Linked DNA regions of Homo sapiens: regions 1, 3, 4, 5 and 6 are each reported to be linked to region 2. The links are microRNA targets in miRTarBase. Many come from high-throughput screens and were not tested one by one. Region 2 holds a microRNA gene; each other region holds the end of a gene's coding sequence. Distances are between the middles of the regions.
The links. Region 2 holds the annotated microRNA hsa-miR-526b-3p (GAAAGUGCUUCCUUUUAGAGGC, at 2,516-2,537, opposite strand). A microRNA usually pairs through its seed, bases 2 to 8, with sites in the 3' UTR of a target mRNA and lowers its output. Matches are read on the target gene's strand: a 7mer-m8 pairs with bases 2 to 8, a 7mer-A1 pairs with bases 2 to 7 and ends in A, and an 8mer does both.

Region 1: the mRNA of SANBR is a reported target of hsa-miR-526b-3p. Seed matches in the 3' UTR shown: 7mer-m8 at 2,809-2,815.
Region 3: the mRNA of FXYD5 is a reported target of hsa-miR-526b-3p. The part of its 3' UTR that is shown has no 7-base or 8-base seed match.
Region 4: the mRNA of RLIM is a reported target of hsa-miR-526b-3p. Seed matches in the 3' UTR shown: 8mer at 2,214-2,221, 7mer-m8 at 3,386-3,392 and 7mer-m8 at 4,720-4,726.
Region 5: the mRNA of PFKFB2 is a reported target of hsa-miR-526b-3p. Seed matches in the 3' UTR shown: 7mer-m8 at 3,475-3,481 and 7mer-m8 at 3,601-3,607.
Region 6: the mRNA of PCNX2 is a reported target of hsa-miR-526b-3p. Seed matches in the 3' UTR shown: 8mer at 4,337-4,344.

Annotation. Positions count from the first base shown.
Region 1 is chr2:61,121,583-61,126,657 of GRCh38, reverse strand. It overlaps SANBR (SANT and BTB domain regulator of CSR), which reads right to left. Exons shown (of 22, transcript NM_001129993.3): 22 at 2,378-4,532. The coding sequence ends at 4,496. Among named protein-coding and RNA genes, the nearest start is that of C2orf74-DT, 21 kb to the left of the region's middle.
Region 2 is chr19:53,691,905-53,696,979 of GRCh38, reverse strand. MIR526B (microRNA 526b) reads right to left here and starts at 2,587; the gene lies at 2,505-2,587. MIR519B (microRNA 519b) reads right to left here and starts at 1,767; the gene lies at 1,687-1,767. LOC107985342 (a long non-coding RNA gene) reads right to left here. Exons shown (of 3, transcript XR_007067332.1): 3 at 2,358-2,951.
Region 3 is chr19:35,168,700-35,173,774 of GRCh38, forward strand. FXYD5 (FXYD domain containing ion transport regulator 5) reads left to right here. Exons shown (of 9, transcript NM_014164.6): 9 at 867-1,182. The coding sequence ends at 916. Among named protein-coding and RNA genes, the nearest start is that of FXYD5, 17 kb to the left of the region's middle.
Region 4 is chrX:74,587,047-74,592,112 of GRCh38, reverse strand. RLIM (ring finger protein, LIM domain interacting) reads left to right here. Exons shown (of 4, transcript NM_016120.4): 4 at 1-5,066. The coding sequence ends at 673. Among named protein-coding and RNA genes, the nearest start is that of RLIM, 25 kb to the left of the region's middle.
Region 5 is chr1:207,071,485-207,076,559 of GRCh38, forward strand. It overlaps PFKFB2 (6-phosphofructo-2-kinase/fructose-2,6-biphosphatase 2), which reads left to right. Exons shown (of 15, transcript NM_006212.2): 14 at 25-89; 15 at 720-5,075. The coding sequence ends at 887. Among named protein-coding and RNA genes, the nearest start is that of C4BPB, 15 kb to the right of the region's middle.
Region 6 is chr1:232,979,528-232,984,602 of GRCh38, forward strand. PCNX2 (pecanex 2) reads right to left here. Exons shown (of 34, transcript NM_014801.4): 34 at 3,908-4,950. The coding sequence ends at 4,777. NTPCR (nucleoside-triphosphatase, cancer-related) reads left to right here. Exons shown (of 5, transcript NM_032324.3): 5 at 1-4,355. Among named protein-coding and RNA genes, the nearest start is that of NTPCR, 31 kb to the left of the region's middle.

The DNA of each region.
Region 1 (5,075 bases), not on the chromosome of region 2:
GCTAATTTTTCTATTTTTTAACAGAGATGGGGTTTTGCCATGTTGGTCAGGCTGGTCTCAAACTCCTGACCTCGTGATCTGGCCACCTTGGCCTCCCAAAGTGCTGGGATTACAGGCGTGAGCCACCGCGTCCGGCCTGAAGGTTGGATTTTATTCTAGGTTTGATGGGATGCTATTAGTGTTAAGCAGGGGAGTGATGTGATCTGAGCCACATCGAAAAATCACGAACGTCGCTTTGAGCACAAGTTATACAGAAGTTGAAATGGAAGCTGGGGAATTACTTATGAGGCATTTGTAGTACTTCATGAAAAAGATGTTAATAACTGGGGGTGGTGATAGTGGAGATAGAAGCAAATGGATGTGGAGTACGTATGGGACTTGCTGATAAATTGAATGTCAGATGTGAAGAAAAGAGAAGAATAAGGAATACTTTCTAGATATTTGCCTTGTGCACTTCGGTAGGCAATAATGCCATTTACTGAATTGGAAAAGAATGGGTTTGAATAAGCAGGGAGTTTGGGGGCAGGAATGGGAAGAGATATCACAAGTTCTGTTTTGATTATGTTAATTAAGTTGGAGATACCTACTGGTACTCCAAGTACAAATGTTAAGCAGTTGAGTAAACAAGCCTGAAACTACCGAAAGTGCACTCGAGTTGCCTGCTTTCAGTCTGAAGAAGCTGCCAGTGAGGCAGGAGGCCTCTAAGAGAAAATTTTCAGGCAACCCAAGGGAAAACTATTTCAAGAAGGTGTTGGAATGTATTGATAGACCCAGATTCCAACCCCAGTATGTAGTTTACTATGCCTCACTGAATGTTCTCTTCCACCTGTAAAATGAGGATAATGCCCAATTTGGTGGCGGGGGCGGGCGTTGTGAGGCTAAAGGAGATAAGGAATGTATCAGGAGCATGATCTTTAGCATAACCAAAGCATTCAACAAATAGCAACTACTAGGACCATCACCTTCAGTTTGGTAAGAATTGGCTGTGTTCATGAACAAATAGTAAGAAGCAAACTGGCTATATTTTCTCAAGGAAAGATACATCTTAGAAAGAGAGCTGCTGTTAGACTTTGCTATGGCCTTCACTTACTGTCCTTCAGTTGAAGCCTCTTTGAAAACAGCATAGCTCCCTACCACATAGTTCCCTACCACGTATCAGGAAACAGTATTCTTTACCTAGCTCTTTCTACAAATGCCACTTACTTTGCCTAAATAAGACATTTGATATGATTTGCTTGTAAGTTTCAAATGATGCCATAGAAACCACGAAAAGTATTAGGTGCCTCCTTTCTTGCACTAAATACATATACGCACACACATACACAGTCTTAACTCAAGTTACAGGAAAAGGGATATGAAACTCTCAAAGAATTTAGGCTACCTTCCACATGTTAACATAACAATGCAACAATAATAGCAAACATTTATGGAGGGCTTACTATAGGCCAGAAAGTACTGTGCTAGTTGTTTTAGATCTATTAACTTATTTAATTGCCCCAAAATCTTATAAGGGTGGAATAATATTATTCTTGTACCATCTTCCCCAATAGATCAGCTTTAAATAGGAGAAAGAGAGTTAGCCTATTAGAATTAAACTGGCTAGCTATCCCAGTCCTGAGAAGTGTGACACAGTTGCTCAGTGAATAGCTGAAGGTTGGCTGCAGAATTAATTCCAGGAATTAAACACAAAATACATTTTTTTTGGTTTCTTTTTATATTATAACGTGCCTTTAGTAGACAAGCTTGACAGAGCTTCAGCCTCAGCTTCCAAAGCAATAAGCACATCTCACAGTACCTGGCTGAGTATTGTGAAGAAGGAAAGTAACAAATAAATGCAATTGTGTACAATCAGCATTGTTATCAGATCATCTTTTCTGAAATATTTTAACCCTTAAATGTTTAATAAATCTTTACCAGCATAACCTCATTTAAAATAATCTTTTTTTTTTTTTTTGATAGGGTCTTGTTCTGCTGCACAGGCTGGAGTGCAGTGGCACAATCATGGCTCACTGAAGCCTTGCACTCTCAGGCTCAAGCAATTCTTCCACCTCAGCCTCCCTAATAGCTGGGACCACAGGTGTGTGCCACCATGCCAGGTTAATTTTTTTAATTTTTATTTTTGTAGAGACGAGGTCTCACTATGTTGCCCAGGCTGATCTTGAACTCCTGGGCTCAAGCAATCCTCCTGCCTTGGCCTCCAAAAGTGCTGGGATTGCAGACGTAAGCCACTGTGCCTGGCCTAAAATAATCTTAAAACTCAAAAATTTCACCTTGTAGCAGAGATAATTTTCCATGAAAACCTGTGGAATCTAGAGCTACTCCAGACTTTTTTTCTGAGAAGATGGAATAATTCAGATAAAGAGACTTTCCAAACAACTTTTGTCATTAACATTTATTTCAATTAAAGAAATGTGAATCCAGGATTAATGTAAGGTGAAATATTAAAGTATCTGGCGAAAGAAATGCTATTAAGAGTTTAAGTAAAATGTTTGCGGTACCAGTGCTATGTATAACAGACAAACATTAACAAAATTAAAAACACATTCTTTTTTTGTTTTAAATTGAGATGGAGTCTTGCTCTGTCACCCAGGCTAGGAGCGCAGAAACATGATCTCAGCTCACTGCAACCTCTGCCACCCGGGTTCAAACAATTCTTGTGCCTCAGCCTCCCGAGTAGCTGGGACTACAGGTGTATGCCACCATGCCTGGCTAATCTTTTTGTATTTTTAGTAGAGATAGGGTTTCACCACGTTGGCCAGGCTGGTCTCAAACTCCTGACCTCAGGTGATCTGCCCGCCTCGGCCTCCCAAAGTGCTGGGATTACTGGCGTGAGCCACTACACCTGGCCAAAAGCATTCTGAAGAGAATCAAATTCTGATAAACTCTGGTTTGTAAAAATTAATTCAGTGGTATAGGCCTCCCAGGGGAGAAGCAGTTTGCCTTTTTACCATCAGTTAAAAATCAAAAGAGCATATATATTTTTTCCTTATCTAGTCGTGACCATTACAGCACTGTTTACATGTACAAATCCAAATCCTTTAATCAGAAAACACAGTAAACTACAAAAAAAACTCTGGTATTTAACAGAGTACTTACATATAATATGTACTACAAGACATTTTCTTTCGAAAATAAAAGTCTATTTCCACAGTATCAAACAATTGAAACAAATATAAATGGGAACAAAATTTCTAAACAGCAGTTCAAAAACCTTGGCAAAGCCAGTTATCAAATAACATCTAGCTTCATTTATCAACTAAAAGACTCACTAAAAAGAATGATTTCTGTACGTGTAAACTGAGTGTAACACTTCAATATTTCAATGGAAATTGCTCTTTTGTCACACATTATTAAAGTCTGTTCTCTGAATAATTTGAAGAAATGTCAGTTATAAGGCAAATTAAGACTTAAAAAAATAGAAACAGTGCATCTTAAAGTTTTTCAGAGACCTACATATAATTTACAAACACATAATTTATTATATGGTTATAGTTTGGAACAAATTTTCCCTGAGCACTCTTTCTGCCTGGCTAGAAAAATTTAAACATGATTTATAAAATAGAATTTTATTTTGATTTTTCTTGAATATATGCAAATTTTCACCTATCTAATGTATTTGGAAAATTTTAGACCGAACTAGCAAGTATAACTGTTTTAAGGAGTTATTTGAATGGTTACAGAAATATGGTTGGGTTTTAGAGCCCTGAGAACTGTACAGTGGGTGTCTCATATAACAGAAATGATTTACTATCCTAAAACTATCAATGGTTATTTTACCAAATTCAGAATGCCACTAGTTTCACAGAGGACAGAGTAATAATCAGTAATTCCAGCTCAGATGATCAATAGATAAGCATTAAAAACTGAAAGAAAAAAAAGTTGGATTAACATTGTACTTTCCACGATATAATGCTGAAAAAAATTAACCCTTCTGCCCAACACAGTACTGAAATACCTTACCCTGAAACTTCATTTAATGCAGTCTTGAGACCTGTCACTCCTTAATATTCATGCAGACTTAAAATTAGCATCATTGGGAATTTCGTCACACAACCTGCAGTTCTCAATGCTATCTCAAGATTTACAGCTCCAAAGACATACTACAATCAGTGCCATGCATGGTAACACTACCAGTTGTGTTCCCCTAACTTTTAAGGTCTTAAAAAAACTTGGCTACCTGACAGTTTAGGCCTTTCTTTTTCAAATAAATAAAGGAAAACACTGGGAGTCTCAACTATGCAAATTTGTAAATAATTGCTTTCTACATAGCCTAGAATGATATTAGAAGAAAATCAGATTTAAAAAGTTTCATATTTACAATTAGATTTTCATAAAACCTAACTATGCATTTCTTTTAGAATTATGATTTATGTGGATTAAAATAATAATAACATAAAACAGTTGGAAGTCATTGTTCTGAAGATCTTCAAGAAGTGAGCAATTTCAGATGTCCAGAAGAGTGCCTTCTCTCTTTTTACTTATATTTTAAGGTACTTTATGCAGGACGCCCTTGACCAAAACGACTTTTAGACCTAGATTTTTTAAACAGAAAAGGAGGTCAGAATTGCTTCTAAAACAATAGGAAGTTGGTGCTCCTTTAGATTATGTTGGCTTGGCAACATCAAGGTTTAATAAATCTTCTTGCAGCTCCGTAATCCATTTTCTAAAACTCTTAACAGGAGATGTATTTTTGGAATTGAGATTTGTTACTTCTCAGAGATAATACGTTATGTACATTGTATATAATGGATCTGGAGCAGTGCCCCATAATCAAATATAAGTGGGATGAATAAAAAATATAAATGGTATCACAGCAGCTCAGTGCAAGTTTGAATTGCTACAAATGTATGAAAACACTTTCAGCTTTTTGAACTTTCTGGATTTCAGAATCATAAATAAGGAATTAGAATCTGTAATATTAATGTTCAAATCTCAGTAACTGTTAATCTCTAACAGAAAATTTGTGATGTAAAATGACATAAGACCCATCAGTTAGATTTTATTAAGAGAAATAAAATATAAAGCAAGGAGTGGTAAAGATTACAGTGATTTATATAAAGTATTAATATGTGATC
Region 2 (5,075 bases):
GATCTCACCACTGCCCTCCAGCCTCAGCGACATAGCCAGGCCCTGTCTCATAAAAATTAAAACAAAATACACAAACAAAAACAACTCCAAAGTGATATAAGAGTGTTCTCTGTGTATAGAAGACTATTTTGTGTGTATGGAATTATACACAGAACATTGTGATGAAATATACTCATTTTTTTTTGAGACCCTGTATAAAAAAAAACCAAAGTTCCATATACTATATGCTCACATAAAGCATAATTCCCACATATTGGTGCTTTGACAGCACACACAAATGAATGGGGTGACAGAGATTTCCATAGCCCCCGCACATAGGTGACACCCAAATTCATAATGGGTCCCATATTCAAAATTAGGAAAAAAGGCTGAGTGCAGTGGCTCATACCTGTAATCCCAGCACTTCGGGAGGCCTACGTCGGCAAATCACCTGAGGTCAGGATTCAAGAATGGCCTGGCTAACATGGTGAAACTGTGTCTAAAATACATATATATATATAGCTGGTATGGGGGTACATGTCTGCAATCCCAGCTACTTGGAAGGCTGAGGTTGCAGTGAGCTGAGATCACACCACTGCAGTCCAGCCTGGGAGACACAGAGAGGCTCTTTCTCCAAAAAAAAAAAAAAGAGAATTGCTTGAGTCCAGGAGGCAGAGGTTGCAGTGAGCCAAGATCACACTAATGTACTCCATCTCGGGTGACAGAGCAAGACTGTCTCAAATAGTCAAAGACAGAAAAAAAGAACAGGTCTCGCTCTCTTCTTGATTGTGTATGGGCTCACTTAAGGTCAGGAGTTGGAGACTGGGCTGGCCAACATGTTGAAACCCTGTCTCTACAAAAAAAAAAAAAACGAACAAACAAAAAAAACACAAAAATTAGCCGGGCGTGGTGGTGTGCGCCTGTGATCCCAGCTACTCGGGAGGATGAGGCAGGAGAATTGCTTGAACGTGGGATTGTGCCACTGACCTCCAGCCTGATGGACGGAGTAAGACTCTGTTTCAAAAATCGATGAGTAAATAAATAAATAATAAAAATACAAAAATTAGCTGGGTATGGTGGCTCATGTCTGCGATCTCAGCTACTAGGGAGGCTGACTCAGGAGAGAATGGCTTGAATCTGGGAGGTGGAGGGTACAGGGAGCGAAGTTCCTGCCACTGCACTCCAGCCTGGGTCACAGAGCAAGACTCCATCTCAAAAAAGAGGACCGCTGGGCACAATGGCCCACGCCTGTAATCCCAGCACTTTGGGAGGCTGAGGTGGGTGGATCTTGAGGTCAGTAGTTTGAGACCAGCCTGGCCAACGTGGTGAAACCCTGTCTCTACTAAAAATACAAAAATTAGCTGGAAGTGGTGGCAGGCACCTGTAGTCCCAGCTACTTGGGAGGCTGGGGCAGAAGAATTGCTTGAACTCAGGAGGTGAGCTTGCACACAAGATCGCGCCATTGCACTCTCGTCTGGGTCACAGAGCAAGACTCCGCCTCAAAAAAAAAAAAAAAAAAAAGAGGACCGTTTGAGCCTAAAAGATCTACGTTGGAAGTGCTACCCTACTCCAGCCTGGGCAAGAGAGACTCTGTCTTAGAAAAAAAAACAAAATAAAAACAGAATCCCACCATCATCCAAGTCTGATGATAAGCATGCTCTGCAAATGTATTACCAAGATCAGCATCAACTTCACTGTTGCTTTCCTCAAACAGTAAACCTCTAAAAGGATGCACTTTCTTTTCTTTCAGACAACAGAAAGCGCTTCCCTCTAGAGGGTCACAGCATGGGATCTTCTTGCTCCAGCACCCTGGGTTTTTTGTAGAAATTTTCCTTGACCAGGTTAAAATAGAGACAAAAATAAAGACCTATTTATTGGCTCTGTTTGCATGTTTTCTGGAATCCAGAACATAGACCCCTAAAAAGACCATCTCCCGTTCCTTCCTACAAAGGCTCAGCAGGTTAGCCTTGTTCATCAAGGGGAAATCCTCCTGAGTTTTGTGTCCAGAAAGAAAAAGCAATGCCTACTATGCATACCTTATATTTAACCAAGAGAATTGGGCTGGATTTCTAGAGAACAGCAGTGGATTTTCAGCCAAGTGTTCACTTGATTTCCAGCACAGGGACACACAGTCCTGATTAGAGCAGTCAAAATGGAATCTACCATGTTGAAGAATATACATTGTTGCACACACAAACATCCTCCAGGATAGACTACAAGGGAGGCCTTAAAAGCTCCTAAAGAAACCCTGTCTCTACTAAAAATACAAAATTAGCCAGGCATGGTGGCGCAGTCCTATAATCCCAGCTACTTGGGAGGCTGAGGCAGAAGAATCACTTGAACCCGGGAGGCGGAGGTTGTGGTGAGCCAAGATTGTGCCACTGCACTTCAGCCTGGGCAACAGAGACCCAGTCTTAGATAAAAAAACAAAAGAAAAACAAAACCCCAACATCATCCAAGTCTGATTATAAGCGTGCTCTGCAAAGATATTACAAAGATCAGCATCAACTACAACGTTGCTTTTCTCAGACAGTAAGCCTCTAAAAGGAAGCACTTTCTCTTCTTTCAGACAACAGAAAGTGCTTCCCTCAAGAGGGTCACAGCCTGACATCTTCTTGCTCTGATGCCGTGGATTTTTTCCTGGAATTTTCTTTGACCAAGTTAAAATAGACACAAAAATAAAGATGCATTTATTGACCCTGTATGCATGTTTTATGGAATCCAGAATATAAAACTCTATAAGGACCATCTCCAGTTCCTTGCTTCAAAGAATCAGCAGGTTAGCCTTGTTCATCAAGGGGCAATCCTCCTGAGTTTTGTCCCCAAAGAGAAAAAGCAATGCCTACTACACGTACCTTTAACCGAGAAAATTGGGCAGGATTTCTGGAGAACAGCAATGGATTTTAAGCCAAGTGTTCACTCGAGTTCCAGTACAGGACCCACAGTCACGAAGGGAGCATCCAAAATGGAGTCTACGATGTTGAAGAATATACACTGTCATATGCACAAACACTCTCCAGAGTAGATCACAGGCTAGGATGTAAAAACTACTCAATAAAATTTGAGCAGAAATACACAAGTACAAGTGGGGCCCAGTGGCTCAGACCTCTAACTCCTCGAACTTTAGGAGGCCCAGGCAGGAGGATCACCTGCCTCAGGAGCTCGAGACCAGCCCCGGCAACATGGCGAGACCCCATGTGTACAAAAATTACAGAAGTTAGCCAGGTGTGGTGGTGCATGCCTGTAGAGACTAATTCAGCAGGCTTAGGTGGGAGGTGGAGGTTGCAGTAAGCCGAGATTGCACCACCACACTCCATCTTGGGTGACAGAGGCAGATATTGTCTCAGAAAAGAACCACACACACACGCACACACACGCACACGCACACACACCCTAGGTGATATCGGAGTATTCTCTGTGTTTAGAAGAGTATTTTGTGTGTACATAATATATAAGAATATAAAATGAAATATACATCATGTATTTTTGAGACCCTGTCTCAAAGAAAGTTCCAAATATTGCATGCTTATAGGAAGAATAATTCCTATACATAACTGCTTGCTTTGGAAGTACACATAAAAAAATTTAAATGACATAGAATATCCTGGCCACTGCACAAAGGCGACACCCAAGTCCATGCTGGTCCCATATTCACCTAATTATTTTTATTTTTATTTATTTATTTATTTAGAGACAGAGTCTCACACTGTTGCCCAGGCAGGAGTGTAACGGTGTGATCTCTGCTCGCTGTAACCTCCGCCTCCCAGATTCATGTGATTCTCCTGCCTCAGCCTCCCGAGTAGCTGGGATTACAGGTGAGTGCCACCACACCCGGCTAATTTTTGTATTTTTAGTAGAGACGGGGTTTCACCATGCTGGCCAGACTGGTCTCGAACAACTGACCTCAGGTGATCCTCCTGTCTCAGCCTCCCAAAGTGCTAGAATTACTGGTGGAAGTCACCATACCCAGACTAGTCCCATATTTAAAATTAGGAAAAAGCAAAAGATGCCCACACCTCAACAGCAATGTTCGAGTACATCTCAAATACATTGCACATCCCATCTGCAAGGGACGCTGAGGTCCCCTTCAATTCTACGTGAACCCACGTGAGGTTCTATAAACCAGTGCCCGAATAATTTCTACGTAGGAAAAGTTGTTGATAGCCGGGCGTGTTGGCTCACACCTGTATTCACAGCACTTTGTGAGGCTGAGGCAGGTGGACCAACTGAGGTCAGGAGTTCCAGACCAACCTGGCCAACATGGCAAAACCCTGTCTCTATTAAAAATACAAAAATTAGCCGGGCGTGGTGGTGCACGGTTGTAGTCCTAGCGACACGTGAGGCTGAGGCAAGAGAATCGCTTGAACCCGGGAGGCAGTGGTTGCAGTGAGCTGAGATCACACCATTGCACTCCAGCCTGGGTGACAGAGCGAGACTCTGTCTCAAAAAAAAATAATAATAATAAAATAAATAAATAAATAAATAAATAAATAAAAGGTGTTGAGGACTGGAAGAACATGCATCGCTCACTATGGCAACAAGAAGAGCTGCTGTGCATTCCACCTGTTACGAGGGAGCCCCTTCTAGGGTCCTCAAGATTTTTGTGAAAACAACTGGTTTTGTTGCATGCTACATTTATCACTGTGACTGAGATTCATCTTGTCTACAACAGTTTCTTATATTAGCCACAGCTAATATAAGACACATTTGACATCTTAGCAAGTAACTGGCATTTAGATGCAAGGTTTAAGCCCATTGGAATGGTACCTTGGAATCGTTACCCAAAGAAAATAGGATAAACATGGCAGCTACAGTCAAAGAACTCACTGGGGTTGGCATTAGTGGGTGAGGGTTGAATCAACTACACCCTTCCTGCAGAGAAAGCAGGTCTATTCCGAGAAATGATGGCAAGATGTTGGGGAAAAACAAATTTCAGTGTTACGGACAAGCAGATTACACTAAAAAGACACGAGTGAACAGGAACAAAAAGAAATTGTATCAATACGGACACCCACTGGGGATTACAGAATAGACTGGATGGACTTGGAGGATTACCCACTCTCTTAATGAAGGAACCATGGTTTGGATTGATTATA
Region 3 (5,075 bases), 19 Mb from region 2:
GCTGTTCCCTCTGCCTGTAACACCCTTCCTCCAGGTGTCTCCCTTACGTCCTTCAGACCTTTGTTCAAATGTCACCTCCTTGGCAGGCCACAGTGGTTCACGTATGTAATCCCAGGACTTTGGGAGGCTGAGGCAGGTGGATCCCTTGAGGCCAGGAGTTCAAGACCAGCTTGGCCAACATGGTGAAACCCTGTCTTTACTAAAAATACAAAAATTAGCTGGGCTTGGTGGCACATGCCTGTCATCCCAGCTACTCGGGAGGCTGAGGCGGGAGAATCGCTTGAATCCAGGAGGTGGGGGTTGCAGTGAGCTGAGATTGTGCCACTGCATTCCAGCCTGGGTGACACAGCAAGACTCTGTCTCAAAAAAAAAAAAAAAAAGTAACCTCCTCATTGAAGCCCCAGTAGCCATCCCTGTGAGGATGAGCCCAGCTCCTGGGCCTCCATGCCTCCTTCCTGGCCTTATTTCCCTTTGTAGGACTTAACACCCTCCCACTTAGCACCTTCATACATTTGATTTTGTAATTTTTCTCCTTGTTGGTCTTTCCCCATAGAAAGACAACTCTGCCAGGGCAGGGATTTTTTTCTTTGTCCTCAACTGTGTTCTTAGTGCCTGAATGAATGAATAAGTGAGATACAAAATAATGGGAGTTTCCAAACGGCTCATCTGTGAGCCTGTGTGGGAAGGGCCTCTCGCAGGGCCCCAGCACTGGCTGTTCTCGGTGTGTTTCTCCATCATTTGTTTATGGAGTTGCCTTTGAGTTTCCCGAGGGGCAGGGTTGATCAATCTGGTTCCCCAGCCCCACAACACACGATAAGAATCAATATCACTCTAGCTCGTGACTGAATCATTTCCTTCACCCACAGGTGGCAAGTGCAGGCAGCTGTCCCGGTTATGCCGGAATCGTTGCAGGTGAGTCCATCAGAAACAGGAGCTGACAACCTGCTGGGCACCCGAAGACCAAGCCCCCTGCCAGCTCACCGTGCCCAGCCTCCTGCATCCCCTCGAAGAGCCTGGCCAGAGAGGGAAGACACAGATGATGAAGCTGGAGCCAGGGCTGCCGGTCCGAGTCTCCTACCTCCCCCAACCCTGCCCGCCCCTGAAGGCTACCTGGCGCCTTGGGGGCTGTCCCTCAAGTTATCTCCTCTGCTAAGACAAAAAGTAAAGCACTGTGGTCTTTGCCCCAGGATCTCTGATCATTTGGGACAGGGGAGTGGAAAGAGGAGGCAGGGGCTGCCTCAGGGCCCTCAAGGAATAAAGCAAAGGCCGGACGTGGTGGCCCACACCTATAACCCCAGCACTTTGGGAGGCTAAGGCGGGAGGATCACTTGAGGCCAGTAGTTCAAGACTAGTCTGGGCAACATAGTGAGACCTTGACTCTACAAAAAATAAAAATATTAGCTGGGCATGGTGGTGCGTGCCTAGAGTCCCAGCTACTCAGGAGGCTGAGGCAGGAGAACTGCTTGAGCCCAGGAGGTCGAGACTGTAGTGAGCTGTGATTGCACCACTATATTCCTGCCTGGGTGACAGAGTGAGATCCTGTTTCTAAAAAAGAAAAATATAACAAGCCAAGGCAGGGAATAAAGTTAGGGAAGCCAGTCTAGTGTGTGGCAGACAGGATGGCGGTGGGCGGTTGCAGGTGAGTCTGTGTGCTGGGTGACTGGCCAGAGAGAGAGTCAGGGCTGGCTTCTGCCTGCAGTCAGTTTGAGAACACTGGCGTGGTCCCCATAAGGGAGCAGGTACCCAGTGTCAGCTCACCCCTAACATTTTTAAGGGTTTGGAGGTCCCAGATCACAGGGATCCCCTCTCCTTCCTACTTCTAGTCCCTTCCCACACCGGGAGGGGCCTTGCACACATGAGTGTGGATGCCACAGCCTGCACCTCCAAGCTCTATCCACAGCCCCCAATACACAAATGGCCACCCTCCAGGGCACTTCTTGGCTTAGGAATGTGTCCACCAAGAAGGCCCTGCAGGCCCCAGCATGGGCGCAGAGCAATTTGGGAGAGGAATTCAGGGGTCCTAGGGATCTAGAACATGGTCGAGAAGAGCATAGGTGCTGGTGGGCACTTCCTGAAGGCCCTTGGGCTCGACCAGATTAGGCCAGAGCAGGTCCCCTGAAGTGCAGGACTTAGACCAGAGCTCTACTCAGGCTTAAGGGTCGTGCCAAAATCAAGAGACAAGGTCCCGGTCACAGGGCTTACATAACAGTGTTTCACAACTTCAGGTCATAGCCCATTCATGGGTTACTAAATCAGTTTAGTGGGCTCTGAGTAGCATAAGAAAAAAGAGAGAAAGAAAGAATAATTTTTAAAAGACATTAGTATATCACTAATAAATGTAAGATTGTATATATATAATATACATAGCATGTCATATACATCATATGCAATATAATTATATATAATGTATAGAATATGACAATTATAACATATATAATTGTTATTAATGCATCACTATAAATGTTATTACTGCATCACTAATCTCAAATATAAGACTGTATATATAATATGTAGCATGTTATATACATTATATATGTATGCATATCTTCATTATAATATGTATATTATACACATACAGGGGGATACTAAAATTATTTCATTATTTGCACCTACCACATAAAGCAGAACAGATGTCTAACTGATCAGGAGGGGATGTCATCTAGATATGAGTATACATTTACATATACAATGGATTATGTCTTTTTTTTTCTCTTTTTTTTTTTTAGATGGACTCTTGCTCTGTCACCCAAGCTGGACTGCAGTGGAGTGATCTCAGCTCACTGCAACCTCTGCTTCCCAGGTTCAAGCGATTCTCCTGCCTCAGCCTCCCAAGCAGCTGAGATCACAGGCGCCCGCCACCACGCCTGGCTAATTTTTGTATTTTTAGTAGAGATGGGGTTTCGCCATGTCGGCCAGGCTTGTCTCGAACTCCTGACTTCAGGTGATCCGCCCGCCTCAGCCTCCCAAAGTGCTGGGATTACAGGTGTGAGCCACCATGCCCAGCCTGATTATATATATTAAGTTGAATAATTTGAAAATGTCAATATTCAAATGTGTTTGACCTATAAAACTAGCAATGTCATATGGCTCAACCTAACAGTATACATGATAGTGTGATATGAAATGCATTTCATACTGCAGGTTGCTTTTTGAAAACGTTGAGAAGCACTGGGCAGTGGGGGACATAGGTTGTGGCAGGGAAGATAAATTTCCGGTTAGAACAGGAAATGCTGGCAGCTATTTTTGCCTGCTGGCTGGGTGGTGGCCACACCAGTGTGTGCAAGATGTTTCTAGTACGATAGTTCTCAAACTTCAATCATCACATATTCCCAACTTATGACATATTTTCACCCCATCTGTACTATTATTCTCTCTTTTAAAAGATCAACTCCCTTTTTAGTTTAAACATATTTATTTTAAAAGCCACAATCATGTATGGAAAATCAGTACTGCTTGATATAGATAGAAGATAGCTATAAAGATAAATCCAAGGCCAGGCGCAGTGGCTCACGCCTGTAATCTCAGCACTTTGGGAGGGAGACCGAGGTGGGTAGATTATTTGGGGTCAGGAGTAAGAGACCAGCCTGGCCAAGATGGTGAAACCCTGTCTCTACTATATAAAAATACAAAAATTAGCTGGGCGTGGTATCGCACGCCTGTAGTCCCAGCTACCCAGGAAGCTGAAGCACAAAAATTGCTCGAACTCAGGAGGCAGAGGCTGCCGTTAGCTGAGATCGTGTCACTGCACTCCAGCCTGGGTGACAGAGTGAGACTCTGTCAAATAAATAAATAAATCCAGTGAAAAGAAATGAAGATGTTATGTTGCATTCTAGCTGGGTCTGGAGTTTCTTGCAGAGGGCTGTGAACCAGAGGCCTGGGTCTGTGGTGTTGGAGGGAGACCCTCAAATATCAGGGAGGTGATCTTCACGCTGCTGCCCAAAGAAACTGCAGGGTTTGGGAGTTTCTTTGGAACTCTCAGCTCTGACTGTGAGTCTCACTTCTGACACCAGCTGCGGGTTTGAGGGTTCCCGAGGGTTTGACAATTCACTACAAGGACTCACGGAACTCACCGAATGCTCTCAGACTCACAGTTAGGGTTTATTATAGTGAAAGGAAACAGATGAAAGCCAGCCGAGGACAGAGACACATGCGGAAGCATCCAGGAATGTCCCAAGTGCAAAGCTTCCAGCTGTCTCCTCCCAGCGCTGTCTTCTGCGGGCACCCATGTGGGACAGTACACGCAGAGTGTTGCCAATCAGGGAAACCCACTCGAGCCTTGGCGTCCAGAGTTTTTACTGGGGCTCAGTCACATAGACGTAATTGACCACACGTGTGGCCGACATTAGTTTCCAGCCCCTCCAGGGGTGGAGCTGATACTGTGTGGCCCACATTCCTCAATGGAAATCACACTGTTAGAAATGATCTGGTGTGGCCCTAGGTCCCTATGTAAATAGAGACACTCTTATCAGGCAGAACATTCCAAGGGCTTAGAGATTACCTTCCAACAGCAAGGCCAGAAGTCAGCCCTTTGGGGTAAAATTAATTCCTTACTATAGAGACTTTCTCCCTCATCTCATTTGATGGATTAAGAGATATTCAAGGCCGGGCGCTGTGGCTCATGCCTGTAATCCCAGCACTTTGGGAGGCCGAGGCAGGTGGATGACCTGAGGTCAGAAGTTCGAGACCAGCATGGCCAACATGGTGAAACCCCATCTCTACTAAAAATACAAAAAATAGCCAAGCATGGTGGTGCATGCTGTAGTCCAGCTACTCAGGAGGCTGAGGCAGGATAATCGCTTGAACCCAAGAGGTGGAGCTTTCAGTGAGCCGAGATCACACCACTGCACTCCAGCCTGGGTGACAGAGTGAGACTCCATCTCAAAAACAAACAAACAAAACATAAGAGATATTCAAAGGTGATTTACTTTCTGACCATGTGACTCAACATGATTTTACCTTGTTTGGGGCCTAAAGCCATGTTGTGTGCTACCACGTCAGTTCAGGAGAATACCTGACAGCTTCCTTGCGCAGAATAGAGGCGGTACTAACTCAAGGGGGGATGAGTGGGGTTGGCC
Region 4 (5,066 bases), not on the chromosome of region 2:
AATTCAGACCATGTTAAGGCAGATAATGACAGGTTTTGGTGAGTTAAGCTATTTTATGTACAGTGATAGCGACTCAGAGCCTACTGGCTCAGTCTCAAATCGAAATATGGAAAGGGCAGAGTCACGGAGTGGAAGAGGAGGTTCTGGTGGTGGTAGTAGTTCTGGTTCCAGTTCGAGTTCCAGTTCCAGTTCGAGTTCCAGTTCCAGTTCAAGTTCCAGTTCCAGTCCTAGTTCCAGTTCCGGTGGTGAAAGTTCAGAAACTAGCTCAGATTTATTTGAAGGCAGTAATGAAGGAAGCTCATCATCAGGCTCATCAGGTGCCAGGCGAGAGGGTCGACATAGGGCCCCAGTCACATTTGATGAAAGTGGCTCTTTGCCCTTCCTTAGCCTGGCTCAGTTTTTCCTCTTAAATGAGGATGATGATGACCAACCTAGAGGACTCACCAAAGAACAGATTGACAACTTGGCAATGAGAAGTTTTGGTGAAAATGATGCATTAAAAACCTGTAGTGTTTGCATTACAGAATATACAGAAGGCAACAAACTTCGTAAACTACCTTGTTCCCATGAGTACCATGTCCACTGCATCGATCGCTGGTTATCTGAGAATTCTACCTGTCCTATTTGTCGCAGAGCAGTCTTAGCTTCTGGTAACAGAGAAAGTGTTGTGTAATTAAGATCTGAACTCTCAGCTATGTAGCTGATATAGTGATGGGCAAACAGGAATCACTTGCTTTTATGTCCACTTTTTGAGTGGTACTTAAATGTAAAGTAACAACCTGAATTGAGTCATTGCTTTCTGAAGGAATCATTGTCCTTTCTCCAGTTTTTGTTCCAGAATAAAAGGAAATATTTTAAAAGCCACGTTATAGGACCTAAAAATCTGATTTCCGTACCAGTTAAATTGGTAGCATCACTGTTACTGATAATTTATCATATACACTTGTCAATTTTTCCTTTGTTATCTTAAAAGATCTGCCTTAGCAATGGCTCCTTTTTCATGTTGATCTTTAAATTTTCCCACACCATAAGAGAGGAGCAAAGGAAATTACCAGTTTAGACTAAGTTACAGTATGTGTTTCATAAGTGATTAAAGCTATATCATTCCCAGTTATTAGTTAACACAAATTCAGCCACATTCTGAGTATTGTTTGTTCACCTTTCAGACTTGGTGATACTGGACATGTCAGTGTAAATAACACTAAGGTTAGGATCTTCTAAGTGTATAACTGTCTCCTAAGCCCATCACTGTGGCACACTGTAGAGTGAGCTTATAGTTTAATTGAGATATTTATCTTGTGGAAATATTAAAAAGCCTATGCTTGTGTAAGTGAAAAAAAATCACATTCATTTGTTTAAAAATGTAAAGCTATTTTGTAGAGGCTCAGTACTTTTCCAATGCACTGTTGTATGAATGCATTAAAAATTGTAAAGTACCATGCTTAGAACTGAGAAAACTGCTTTTTGTGAGCCAACATAGTAACAAACACACCAAACAAAGTACAAAGCTGCTTTTGTAAGTGTGTAGATGTCAAGAGCAGAACATATCTATAATATTTAATGTGTGAACAGCTACTGTGACATGCAAAGGAAAGGACAGTGCAGAATTAAACCGTGTTGAAGACCAGTGGAAATTGTATAATTTAACTTGGATTTAGGCAGGAAGTGAAATATGGGAGGAGTAAAGAAAACTGAAGAATTTAAAGTTTTCCTGAAGACAGTAATAATGCAGACACAAACTGGTTTCATATGGTGAGAGCAGCCACAGCAGCAGCTTGACCTGGTATTCTACCTGAGTAGATGAAGCAGAAGATCAGCAAGTTTGGCAGAGTTTTGGTTTAAGAAAAACAAACCACTACTACCTAGCACAAGTTAAATTTACAAGTCTGCTCCTCAAAAATGAAAAAATGGAGGAAAGAGACTATAAAACCACTTTTAGCATATGAATTGCAGTTGGTACACATGTGTGTGTTAATAGGAAAGTCTCGAATTTGTGTTGTTTTTGAGATTTGTCATTTAAGGTACCAGTGCACACTTGATCATATTTCATTACTATCTCTAACACAGTCCTAACATCTCAAATTTAAAGACCAGTTGAAGATTAAGGGATTTTTATCCTTTGTTGAAAGTCATGTTGGGTTATTTGAAATTCAAATTTTAATTGTGCTGCCCATATATGAAAATGAGACTGCTGACTCGCTATCTATGGACATGCACTTTATGTTGGTTTCTTAGTAGTAAGAGTAACTTCATGATAACCCCAGTCTTCTTGCCTAATTTCTTTTTTGAGACTAGCTGGGGTTAGGATTAGAATGACTATGGAGCAGATATTTGTTCTTCTGGGAAAAGCTTTAACAGGCCAAAATAGGGATTGAACTTGTCCTTGGCCTTTATCAAAGCAAGCTAGCTACCCAGACGTAGTCAAATACTCTACAAAATAAACAAGTCTGCTTTAGGAATTGTCTGGGTACCTTCACTGTTACCAACTTAGCTGTAAAGATTATTTCAAAGCTCACTCTTCCATGATTTCTTCTGGCTTTCAATCCTATCTAAGTATCAAGGAAATTAACTTGTAAATATGGTAGTTGTTTACTAAGGATATGTACTGCTCTTGCAAGGAAATAATGTCCAAACAAAGCTTCACTTATTTTTTTTAATATAAGCAGATTTCACTGTTTATGGCGCTTATGTAATACATTTTATCTTTTTAAAAATTTGTCCGTGTAAAAGTCAGGATTCCTTTATATTTGTGAGCCTCCTTTTCTCCTTTCCTAAGGATGTAATCTACAGTTTTCAGATCTGCAGGGTAGTCTTGATTGGCTAAAAACAAATCAATTTTCTTCTTGGCATAAAGTGTTTCATTATTATAGGGGTGTTCATTTTAAATAGTTTAAAAACAATTGCAGCACATTCTAAGCATAAGAGAAAGTTATTGACAACAGGTACCTTCCTAATCTCCCAAGACGTACTTACTCATTTGTGAAGTATTAAAGTAAGAGGTAACTCAAGCAGAATGCTGGCTATGAATGTAGATATTGAAGCTATTCATAAACACTGGAAATAGAATTTTAAGCTTTTAGCCTTCAGTGGAATGCACATATTGGACATGTGCATGTGAACACCTTTTTCAGTAGCACTCACGGATTTCCATTCGATTGTATAGAATGAATACAAGTGTTTTAGTGGAATTTGCTACTTAATTTTTAATCTTGCGATGTCCGTGATTATTACATGCTTACTAGTGTTGTGGACATTGAAGACAAGGTCATTCGTAGGTGTCAGATTACAATGGAGAACAAAAATCGTTTTCCCCCCACCCACATCCAAACACCATTCTCGAGGGAGCATTTCTTGCAAAACACCTTACATTTCATTTTCTATCTTTGCACTTTTTCTTAAGTACAGAAAAGTTGTCTTTAAGACCTAGTTTGAACTTCATGCAGTAAGAGGAACAAGGATAAACAATGTTGGGAGTTCACATTGTTCAGAGCATAAGGAAAAGTACCAAAACCCAAATTTTCTTGAATATTTCAGATGTTTTTAAAAACTCACTTCTAGTCTGAAACATTTGAATTGTTTTAACTCTGAGCAGCTGACAAAGTTGAGGTTTTTTTGTTTTGTTTTGTTTTGTTTTGTTTTTTTGAGACAGAGTCTTACTTGGTTGCCCAGGATGAAGTGCAATGGAGCGATCTCGGCTCACTGCAACCTCTGCCTCCTGGGTTCAAGCAATTCTCCTGTCTCAGCCTCTCGAGTAGCTGGGATTACAGGCGCATGCCACCACACCTGGCTAGTTTTTATATTTTTAGTAGAGATGGGGACTTCACCGTGTTGGCCAGGCTGGTCTTGAACTCCTGACCTCAAGTGATGTGCCTGCCTCGGCCTCCGAAAATGCTGGGATTACAGGCGTGAGCCACCATGTCCAGCCAAAGTTGAGGTTTATTAGTACTATTAGAAACAAAATTGAGCAAGTTAAGTTAAAAGTTTGCTGACTTTGTATCAACACTATAGAAGATGAGCCACCTTGTTAATTTGGAATATTTGCTCTGAAAAGAACATGTTAGTTACACCTTAATGGTGTTAATGGAGGTGGGGATTGAGAAAAGTGTTCACATTAGTGTTGGAATGTAGGTAATTGTACAGTTTATAAGACCTTTAGCACCAGGAAATAAAATATGTGTGTGTACACACACAGTTTTTAAAAACGATTGGAATTCATCCAAACCTTAAGATTAGGAAACTGATTGGCTGTAAGTGTTGCCTCAAGTAATGTGTCCCCCGCCCCATAACATGTCTTTTCTGTGCCAAGTATCCTCTCCTAGTGTCAGTGTCTCAAATTATATTTATGAAGGGTTATCACATAATATGCTTTGTATTTAACTACCTGCTTCCCAGGCGTCCATGACATGAAATGGGTGAAGCATCAGCCATGACTTTCGGTCAGTTCCCAAAATACCCAAATGATAGGGAGGTAAAGATTGCAAAATTCCTCTTAAAAGGCCATTTTTACAGCTTGCTAAAATACAGTGGCACCTTATGGTTGTTAATATTTTTTCTTTTAAAGATGGAGAATGTTTTTATTCTTCCCCTTTTCTCCTTTGTTCTTTTGCGAACAAAAAAAATTATAATCTGCCTTATTTGATTTTTTTTTTAAGTTTTACCTTACAGGCTTCCCTGTCACATGTTTTACCATATTAAGTACATAGAAGCCATGTTTGCAGGGCACTTTTATTCTCCTAGTCTTATAAGACTATGCTAATTGTTACTTTCTGAAGTATTCTGTACCTTAGTATGCAAGATTGTTAAGGCACATGTTAAAGTGTCAGGTGTGTTTTTTTCCCTTTAATTCTTCAGTATGTTTATATTCAATAACAGTATTGTAATTCATTGAGTTAACTAGTAAATTGTGTGCTTTTGAAAAAACATGAAAAATGTAAATTGACAGCATACTTCATTTGGAAAAAAGTAAAAGATCCGAGGAACTAGTATGTCACTTATTTATTTTTATTTTATTTTATTTTTTACTTTTTGAGACAGGGTCTTGCTCTGTCACCCAGGCTGGAGTGCAG
Region 5 (5,075 bases), not on the chromosome of region 2:
CCTCTCTTTCCTCTGTTTTCTCAGGGTGCAAAGTGGAAACAATTAAACTTAACGTGGAGGCTGTGAACACGCACCGTGACAAGCCAACTGTAAGTATTTTCCCACGATGAACACACCAGTTTCCCTGCCACCTTGAGTCTCTGAAGCTTTGACATCAAGAGACTGGGGTTTCTTTTATGTACAAAAGGGAAACAGATTCAGAACTTACGTCCAAATGTAGTTTGCTACGTCTGAAACTGATGTTGGAATTATTTTTTTTTTAAATTAGTACCCCTTTCATGAGTCTTAACCTTGAATGTTGGCTCCTGGAAATCCAATTAAATATGGAAAGTGTTTGGCTGAAGTGAAATGCAAATTACTACCCCCCTCCAACCCCAAGTGTCCCTTTAGAAAGCAGAGTCCAGAGGAGCCTATAAGGTGGGGGTCAAGAGGTGTAGGTTTGTTCCTAGGTCTGTCACTGGTAATCTGTGTGGTCTTCAATAAGCCCCTTCCTTTCTTTGGGTCTTTTTCCTGCTTTGGAATGTTATGCTCAAGGAGCTTCTCCCTTTTAGCCCCCTGATGCTAGGAGGCCAGGCCATGGGCCATGCCCTGTGAGGGACCCTGTGTGCAGAGGAGCAGGAGTGAGGGAAGCTGTTGTGGTTACAAGCGCATTATTAACCTGTATGAGTGAGCTTTTGGCTTGGCTTTCATTTGTGTGGTGTCACTCCATTTCCAATCAGAACAACTTCCCCAAGAACCAAACCCCTGTAAGGATGAGAAGGAACAGCTTTACGCCTCTGTCCAGTTCGAATACAATAAGGCGTCCAAGAAATTACAGTGTTGGGAGCCGGCCCCTCAAGCCCCTCAGCCCTCTCCGTGCCCAGGACATGCAAGAAGGGGCCGACTAGCCGAAGACCCAAGTCAGCATTCCGGTGGTGTAACTGTGTGTTTCCCTCCAGCCCTGGCCTCCTGCCCTTGTCACTAATCACCAAGGAGTCATTAACTTCCTCCCTCTATGCCCACCCCTGACACTTCACCATTAATCTTAACACAGAACATGAGGTTATGTGTTTATAGGACAACTTAAGCTGTTCTTCAGTTTGAAACATCTTTTCACCCAGGGGCAAGTTAGCAAATTGAGTCTTTTAGGACAGATTCTCAGATGGGATGATCTGGAGGAGGAGGAAAAAGATACACTCCCTTGGGGCTGAGCATGCCCCACACTCTTGGATCTTCTCTCTGTTCCCTGGTGTCTTCACTAATGTCCTCATGTTGGTGAAGTGTTGGGGGATGGAGGGCGGGTGAGCAGTCGGGGGACAAAAAGTCTATTTTTCCTTCACTTTTGTCTCTTCAATGTGTGTTTTCCTCACACTCCTTACTTGACTGCTTTCTTCCCCCACTTTCATGTCCCCTCTGGATTGTCCAGTGTAATGCATGGCATTGTGGTGTCTGTCTAGGAAGGAAGGGGTGATTGACAAGAGACAAGTCTGGCCCAGTTAATGCTTTCTGCAGTGGGTCTAAATGGATCTGGACTGGAGGAGTCTTTCCTTTCCTTTCTCCCTTCCTCTCCAGCCAGGTCCTGTAAGGGCCAGCCCAGACTACAGGACATCCACAGAATATTCTGGAGCTTGCAAGTAGACATAGGGTGAGAGTTCTTGCCTCCTTTCATGAGAAACAGTTCTAAGTCTTCGATGCCCTGGGAGAATCTGGCTCTGAGCATGTGGGAAATGTCTTGGTTTTTATTTTTAATTTAGAGTCAGGCCTGGGTCTTTTGAGGTCTGCAGAGTGGGGTTTAGGAGAGTAGGGTGGGCTCTAGCTCTTGCAGGGCTCTTAGAGAGCAGTCATGTCTTTTCTCCCATGACTCTCAGGTTCTTTGCCAATCACAGCAACTTTTCCTGCCAAAGCCAGTATCCTCTGGGGCTGTTTAGAAGGGCAGTTAGATTCAGGAGTCACCACTGATGTTTGAGTTGCTCAAGGCAAGAGGCAGAGAAGAGTTCACTAAAACTGCTTATTTTTGAATAATTTCAGCACACTGTCCTTAAGAAGAAAGAAACATCAAAACAAAATAGTTTTTACATGACCATTTTTTTCCCAAATGTGGAAAAGCTTGATGATGAATTTAATCTCTCTCATTGGAGTATTCTTTTGTTCATAAAGAGAAACTATCTCATCTTGATGTCCAGAGAAGTCCTTGGAACCCTGTGGGATCTAGCTCGTAACTGTTTGTATTTCTCTATTCACTTCTGTCATTTCATTTTCTTTGTAGGGTTAAACAGAAAATGTTTAGGGAAGAAATTCTTAGCCCCTTGATGACCATGATGGCTTATTCTCTTTCCCAATTTTGCATGCAAAATGTACGAATATATGTATGTTTTTCTGAGAGGCAAGTTTAGGGTTCTCATGGGATTTTAAAAAGAGATAGGTGACTCCCCACCTTAAAGTTATCTGCTGGTCTTTTAGAGGTAACCAGTGAGAAGGAGTTAGCTATTTTCCAAGGGTGTTTTCATTTGGTAATGGAAGACTTTTTGCTGTGGTTCTCATCCAGGAGTATTCCTTAGAATTGCCTTTAGGATTGTTGAATCATAAACATGCCTGTGTCCACCTTATGCTTAATACTGACTCAGAATCTCTGGGATCTGGGTCTGGACATGCATGTATTTAAGTAGCTTCCCGGATGATTCTGATTCATAGCTCGGGTTAAGAACTCCACCTTAGGAAGTTAGGTGGAAAAATACTGGATAGTAGTTTCTCAGACAAAAGTGTCAGCCTAGGAATTCTGAATTCCTCATAGTCCTGAAAGGACAGTTCTTTGGGTTTGATGTTTGAGCAGATCATAATGTTAAATGATATAACCCCCTGGAAGGCAGGCTGCTGTGTTTTAGAGGGTTATTCTAGGTTCTAGTCCCATCTTTAACCCTTTACATTGCTGAGTGATGTGGAACAAATCACTGAATTAAATAATTGTCTCTAGAGAGCAGCTGGGGATTTTAAGCACCCTGGAGAGAGGTGCAGACCCTGCCAGGATGATAAAGGTTGTCATCACTGGCAACTGACTCCTGACCCCGGGTCCTTTACTCGTATGTCCCAAGTAGGATACCATAGGCAGCTTCTAAAGGCTGCTTACCTAGATTCTTCTCAAAATTGTGTCCAAGATGTTAAGTAACCTGCTATTCCTGTTTAGTGGTTACATAACATGTACTTAGTGTCTTTGTGGAGCTTTGGGCTGGTAGGGGCAGGGATAGGGGAAAGCTAAACAGAAGTAGAAGAAAAGGTCCTTGTCCAGAGGAAGGTTATTTTAAGAGACAGGACATGTAATTTATAACAAATGGACATTTGCAATATAGCAACAGTCTGAGTCTAGAAGTGTTCAACCATCACATCGCTTCTCCTGACTTTTCTGTTGTCCTATGGCTATGAGACTACAGGGGTTGGGGGATGGGGATGCCCCCACCACCACCAGTGTGAGAATGAGATATGGTTGGGGAGGCGTGTTTGGCACTTTTACAAGGTTGCATTGTCCACATTTGCTTGGATGGTGGCATCTGTAGCCCAAATGGGCATTCAGTCTTTTCTTCTGCTGTGAGGTAAGAGTAATTCAGACCTAATGAATGAGAAGAGGGAGCACTTTGATCCACAGACTTTGGATTAACACTGTACCCACTCTTAGCAAAAGGGGACTTCTCTAACAAGCTAGCATTGTGTTAACCTGTCATTAACCCAGCATTAGAGACAGGTCACTGGGATGTTCATTCTGGCTCTCAGCCTGCTGTTATTTCCCCACTCTCACCTGTGCTAGTTCGCTTTCTCCAGAAGAGGAGCTGAGGTGGTCTTATCCTCAGATAGGACATGAGAAATTGGAATTTGGCAAGCAAGGGCTTCAGCATCCTTTAGTTTCTAAAGCAAGATCCCTTCAGAGAAGTCTAGCAGGAAGAAGCCAGGAGAATGTAGAATGGAAAAGAGCTCTTACTCCAAATTTTAGAGAAGTTTCAGCTCTACTTCTCATCTTTTCTCTCCTGGTCTTACTTGAATGCATGTTGGTAATCTGTATACATTACTATGACTGTGTCTATCACAAGTCCTACAAAATAAAAATGGACTTAAAAGTACTCTCTGCTGAGGCTGTAAGTTTTGTTTTGTGAGAAATAGGTAAAGACATTAGCATTTAATCTACTGGAATAAGCTGGTTGCTGTGGCTTATACCTGTAGTCCCAGATACTTGGGAGGCTGAGGCAGGAGAATCACTTGAGACCAGCCTGGGCAATATAGTGAGACCTCACCTCTAAAAAAGTTTTTTATAAATTTACTTGTCTAAAGTGGGGAAAGGGAAATTATTCTGTTTTCTTATTCTTGCTTCAAGACTATGACAGATTTGAAAGAGAATTCTAAAGCAGATTTAGAGAACCTGCTTCTCTTCTTATCTCCTAATCCCTAAATTGTAATTTAGCTCTTATCTGTATTGTTGTTTTGTTTTGGTAAAGGGATGATTTTTACATTGAGTTTTAAAGTAGAATAAGAAAAGCTTCTAAAAACTTGCATTGTGCTAGGGATCTGCCCTATATCTTTGCCTCTGGTGTTTCGTTGTTGTTGTTATTGTTTGTTTGTTTCCAAAGAAGTTGGAGTTAAGGACACAATATATTTGTACCCCTAGACTGAATGGGTGAGTATTCCATATGAGGATCTGGGTAATCCTCTTTGCAACCCACATTTGGTCTTCAGAGACACTGGCATTTTGAAGAAACATATGATATAGCTGTTTGGAAATAAATTCATCTATGTTACTTTTTTTTTCTTTTTTTTTTTTTTTTATGAGCAGGAGATCTTAATTGACAGAAACTCATTGGTGGTTGGAGTGGCCAATGGGCACGGGAAAAAGTATCCAGTAATCAGAAGAATTGTATCTGGGTTATGTAATCTTATGCACATTCCATTGTCTTTGCCAAGCCCAGAAGCCATGTTGTGTTCATTGTTAAGAAATTTGATAGATTTACCCAGCTTTTCTATGTATTTTGACTTATTGAAAATATGTAACAACTGAGTCGGGTTGCAGCACTGGTGGGGTAGAATCGACTTTCCCTGAAGGTGACACAGATGTCAGA
Region 6 (5,075 bases), not on the chromosome of region 2:
GACTTGCCTAGCCTTGGAGGGACCACAACAGGGAGGCCTAATAGATTATGAACTAAGCCCTCAAAAGGGCTACCTGCCCAGGAGGAGGAAGTGGGCATCTCCTTCCACAGTCCCTGCCTGGCGGGGCTGTTCAGGGAGACTGAGTTCCGAGCTCAGGATGTCTGGCAGGCTGGCTGTGACTTCCAGCCACCATCACCAGGACACCGGTGTGGGCTGCATGCCTCAGTGGGCCAGGAGAGGCACGGCCTCTGAGTTGGGTAGAGGCTTCCCACAAAGGCCTGGGAACCTGATCCTGGCCGTAAATCTGAAAGTACCACAGCCCTCAGGAGAACCAAGAGATAGGGAGGCAGGCTGGGGAAATGTCATCAATGTGCACCCAGGCGTGGTGGAGCTGGTCAGCCCCAGCTGGAGTGGGACCCCATCAAGATGGAGCCTTTCCTGGCACCTCCGGGAGGCCGTTTTGCGTTTCCGCCCTTCATGCATCTGAAACACCAAGGGCCATGTTCCTTCTGGTGCTTGTCCTTTTGAGCTTGGTGTTTCAGCCGTGTCTGTTTTGTAGACTTTGATTTTGTCTTAAATGAGAAAGAAAGCTGGTGAAGGTTATTTCAAAGTTAAATAGCTAGTCTGAGGGGCTTATCACTGAAGCCAGTTGTGCTTATGTGGGGTGGGAGTGTCACTGCCTACTTGAAAGTATGCACTTGTGTGGAACAGATTCAGGGTGGCCCCTAGCACTTGGGGCTGCGGGAGCTTCTGCACACTTTCCCTTTAACGGTAAAGAGACAAGCTTGGAGTGTTTAAGTGGTTCGTTCAGGAGCACAGTGATAGCGGTGACAAAGGAGATTTGAACCCACGTCTGCGTGGCTCCAAAGTTCACTCTTTCATCACTCCCTGCTGCGTCCTTCTTGAGGCTTTAGCATTTTTAGTGTGTTTTGTGCCCCCAGACCTCAGAGTTGACATTTAGCAGTGATAAACTGCTGTAAATCCAAAGAACGTTTAGTGTCTCTTGTGGTGAGGTCCTGAAATGATTGTTGTATTAGTCAAACAGAATGATCATGGAGCATGTATGGAGATGTCAGATGCAATCCCTGTATTGTAAGGCAATGACATTTAATGAAGGATAAGATGAATTCACAGATAACTAGAACTCAGGGCCAAACGCACACAGCCTGTAGCAACAGTGTCATGCTGAGATTTAAAGGAAGAAGAGGTGCCGTGGCAGAACTCCACGTGACCGTCCCCTCCCTGCACGCAGCCAGGATGAGAGGAGCAGAGCTGAGCGCCACCTCCCTGTCGGTGCCACGGCTGAGGTGAGGAGCTCTTGCCGGATGGTGGGGTGGGGGCAGCAGGGCAGATTGAAGTCAGGGATTCTCTTATACCTGAGTTTGGAATGCCTCCTATTCAAACAAAGCAAAATATCTAACAGATGGTTGGATATGAGTCTCAGGGAGGAATTCAATTTGAAAAGCACAGAATTAACATGTATTGCTTATATGAAGAATCTCAGCTAGAATAACAAGGTCGGATGGGAGGAATCAGGACTGATTTGAAGCACGATTTACTAAATCATTCTTTCCTTTTCCTCCTTAGCAGATCATACCGCCAGCTGCTTAACACGTAATAGTTTAATAAATTGTTTCTTCTTACCTCTCAGTGAGGGTAAGCACATGCAGGGAGATGGGTGAGTCTTTTAAATGGATAGTGTCATCTCTGATGATCAGCCTTGACAGGGAGAGATCCTAGTAAAGCTGCAAATTCAGGCACTCAGTTCCCAGCCCTCCAGTTATCAAGGGGGTGGGAACGCTGGTGGGCTGGAAAATGTGGAACAGACCTGCTCCTCTTCTTTTCCTGCCAATTACCGTATTCATAGAAGGTTGTGTCTGTGGATCACACCTGTGTGTGTGCTGATGGCGGATGCTTGTGTAGCATAGTGACTTGGGACAAAACAGCATGGTAGATGAGGCTGGAGACGGGTGGGCTAAGTAAACAGGCATTGCATTGCACATTTTGTGGGCAAAGAAGTTGAAGCATCGCATGATTTTAACAAATTACTTGCCAGATGATTTCAACACACTGCAAAATTTAGAATCAATAATGCCAAATTGGCCACATGATTTATATAAAACCAAGTGCTATGGTTTTAATATTATCTTTAGAGGAGAAACCATTTTGATCTGTGTCCAAATAACTCTTTTTTTTTTTTTTTTTTTTGAGACAGAGTCTCACTCTGTCGCTTGAGCTGGAGTGCAGTGGTGCTATCTCGGCTCACTGTAACCTCCGCCTCCTGGGTTCAAGCGATTCTCCTGCCTCAACCTCCTGAGTAGCTGGGATTACAGGCACCCGCCACCACGCCCAGCTAATTTTTTGTATTTTTAGTAGAGACGGGGTTTCACCATGTTGGCCAAGCTGGTCTCGAACTCCTGACCTCATGATTTGCCTGCCTCAGCCTACAAAAGTGCTGGGATTACAGGCGTGAGCCACCGTGCCCAGCCCCCAAATAACTCTTGAACTGGAAAATAACTCTTTAGCTATATACTGGCAGAATATTTGAACAACTCTAGCAAGAAATGTCAGTTTAGGGATGCCTCCTCTAAATGGGGGCTTAGAATATAACATTTTGCAGGAAGTCCTTTCTGATACATAGCTGACTAGATGAAGGACCAGATTAACAAGTTCATGAGTTGTAAATATAAAAGTTGTGTACCACGATAAAAAAGAAAAAGAAGTATGGCTGCACTGTTGATGGCTGGTCAAACAGCCCCCAAGAATCCTGGGGTGACTCCAATACTGCCACCTTTTCTCTGTGGGTGCAGTTGCCTGCGGATGTGTGTGCACATCTGTGCCTCGGTATGCACACTCGAGATGCCCGCTCTCATAGACGGTGCAGAGCGTCACTGCATTCCTATCTGATTAATGTGACCTTAGTGTTGTAGATACACTGTGTCACTTTCATCCTCCCTCCTCCCCACAAAAGATGCCACGAGAACTCGTGAACTGTGATAAGCAATGAACAGAATAACTGTTGAAGAAGCACCTCATGAACCTCCCCAGAGAAACGGGATGGAGGAGCACCCAGGGTGCTCTTGCTCTCTTGCCTGCGCTGCCATTTCCTTCCAGCCTGGGTTTCTAGCTCTTTGGGGAGATTCCCCGTTTTGTGGAATGCTTTCTGTGTTTCCTACTTCTGGATGCCTAAGGAGTGGCCAGTCATACTCCTGGCTGACCACTGCCAGGCACCGTGGTTTTCCTCACTGAACTCAAGGAGTCACCCTCCGTGGGGAGGCCACACTCACAGCTCCAGGCCTGCCATTTAGCCCTTGGGGCTTGGCTGTAAAGTTGCCCAAGAGGATTACAGGAGCTGCCAGCCAAGTTTAATTTGGCCACCTTAGAGAACTGCAGCAAGGCCCTATCAGCTTCCCATTAGACAAACAACTGCATTTAAATTAAATAAAGTTTGCACCTCTAGGGAGTGCTGACCTGAAAATAAGAACCTTCTGTCTGTGATTATAGAGTACACTTGCTTTTATTAATTGCTGATTCTTAGTTTACAAAAAAAAAAATTAGAAAAGCATTACCATTTACTTTCCAAGGGGCAAGAGATTCTCTACAATACCCTTCCCCCAACCCTCTCCTCAAATTTCCAAATCCTAAATACTTTGAAGAAATTTGTGTGACTGTTTAAAATTGAGTATTTCCTTCTAACTATTGTCTTTTGAAAAGGGATGGTTCACCAGGCCAGTGATACTCTATGGACTGCATTTTGGGACCTCTACCCCAGCAAGGATACAGGTTCCTGGGGTCTTGAAGATGGGAAAAGTTGTCTCAGAATTTACCCAAATGTCGTTCTCACCATAAAAGATATACTTGTAGAAATGAGAAGCTTCAGTATAACTCAAAACACTGGACGCAGCAATAACTATAAACATTTTAATTTCAAAAACAAAGGTGTGTGCGATGTTGTGTGCACAGTAAGGGTTGCGGGGCTTGGAGAACAAGCACGCGTCCCTGTGAAGCCCGCAGGGTGCTGGCGGCCCACCAATCGCCTGGACTACAGTGAGGAGCATTGTGTGACTCCGCGGTGGATTTCCATGCACCGAATGGACTCAGTTTCTAAACTCACATCCTAACGTATCCTGGCTTTTCACAGAATACTGGAGACATGACTGCATGCATGATCACGGTTCTTGTTGTGAAGCTGCCACCATGTTACGCTTAACAGCTGCATAAATATTATAAAGAAATAGGGTTTTCTTGACACTTAGATTTAACCTTAATGCATCTGCCCAGCTGATGGTATCAGACGTGCTGCTGTTCATTTCTTTTTCATGGTAACAGTAATGTATAAAGTGCCGATGATGTAACATGCAGTTGTCTTATTTTCATCAGGGCATTTGTTTCATGGCTCTGTTGAGTTGTTTTAAGTTAGTGAATGGCTTTTGAGATTTCAGATTCTGGAACATGTGTGGTGCTGTCCGCGGTGTGCCGCTCTGGGCAGCGCTGTGCCTGGCCAGGGAGGTGTGGTGTGGCTTCTTTGTTGCTTTTTTTTGTTTCCCCATCATGTGAGGTTTTTTTGTTGTTGTTGTTTGATTTTTTTTTTTTTTTTTTTTTTTTTTTCAAAAACCTGAGATCAGTTCTGTGTTCTGGAACAGCTCTCCTTTTCCACAGGAGGAGTCCCTCATGGATCGCGGTATTGGTTGGTTGTGGTGATTTGGGGAGCACGAGGGAGAGCAATGCAGGTGGGAGGTGTGGGGGAGCCAGCCTCCCCGCCCGGCCGCACGCCCGTCACTGCTCGTCTGACACACTTTGCTGCGAGGCCGTGTCGTCCAGGCCCATGTCCTCCTGGCTTGCTCTCCTGCAGACAACCCCGAGAGTGTCCGCCACAGCCTCAGCCAGACATCGGTCATGAAGCTGCCCCTGCTCGGTGGCATCAGGGGGCTCACATGGCTCGGAGAGGTGCTTCCAAAGAGAAGAGAGAAACAGTGAACAGCTCAGCAAACGTTCACTACCCACTTCTAACTGGCATCACCCCCATCCGTGCTGTGGGAGCTAAAGGCTAGCGCTGCCATATCCTTGAGGTCAGG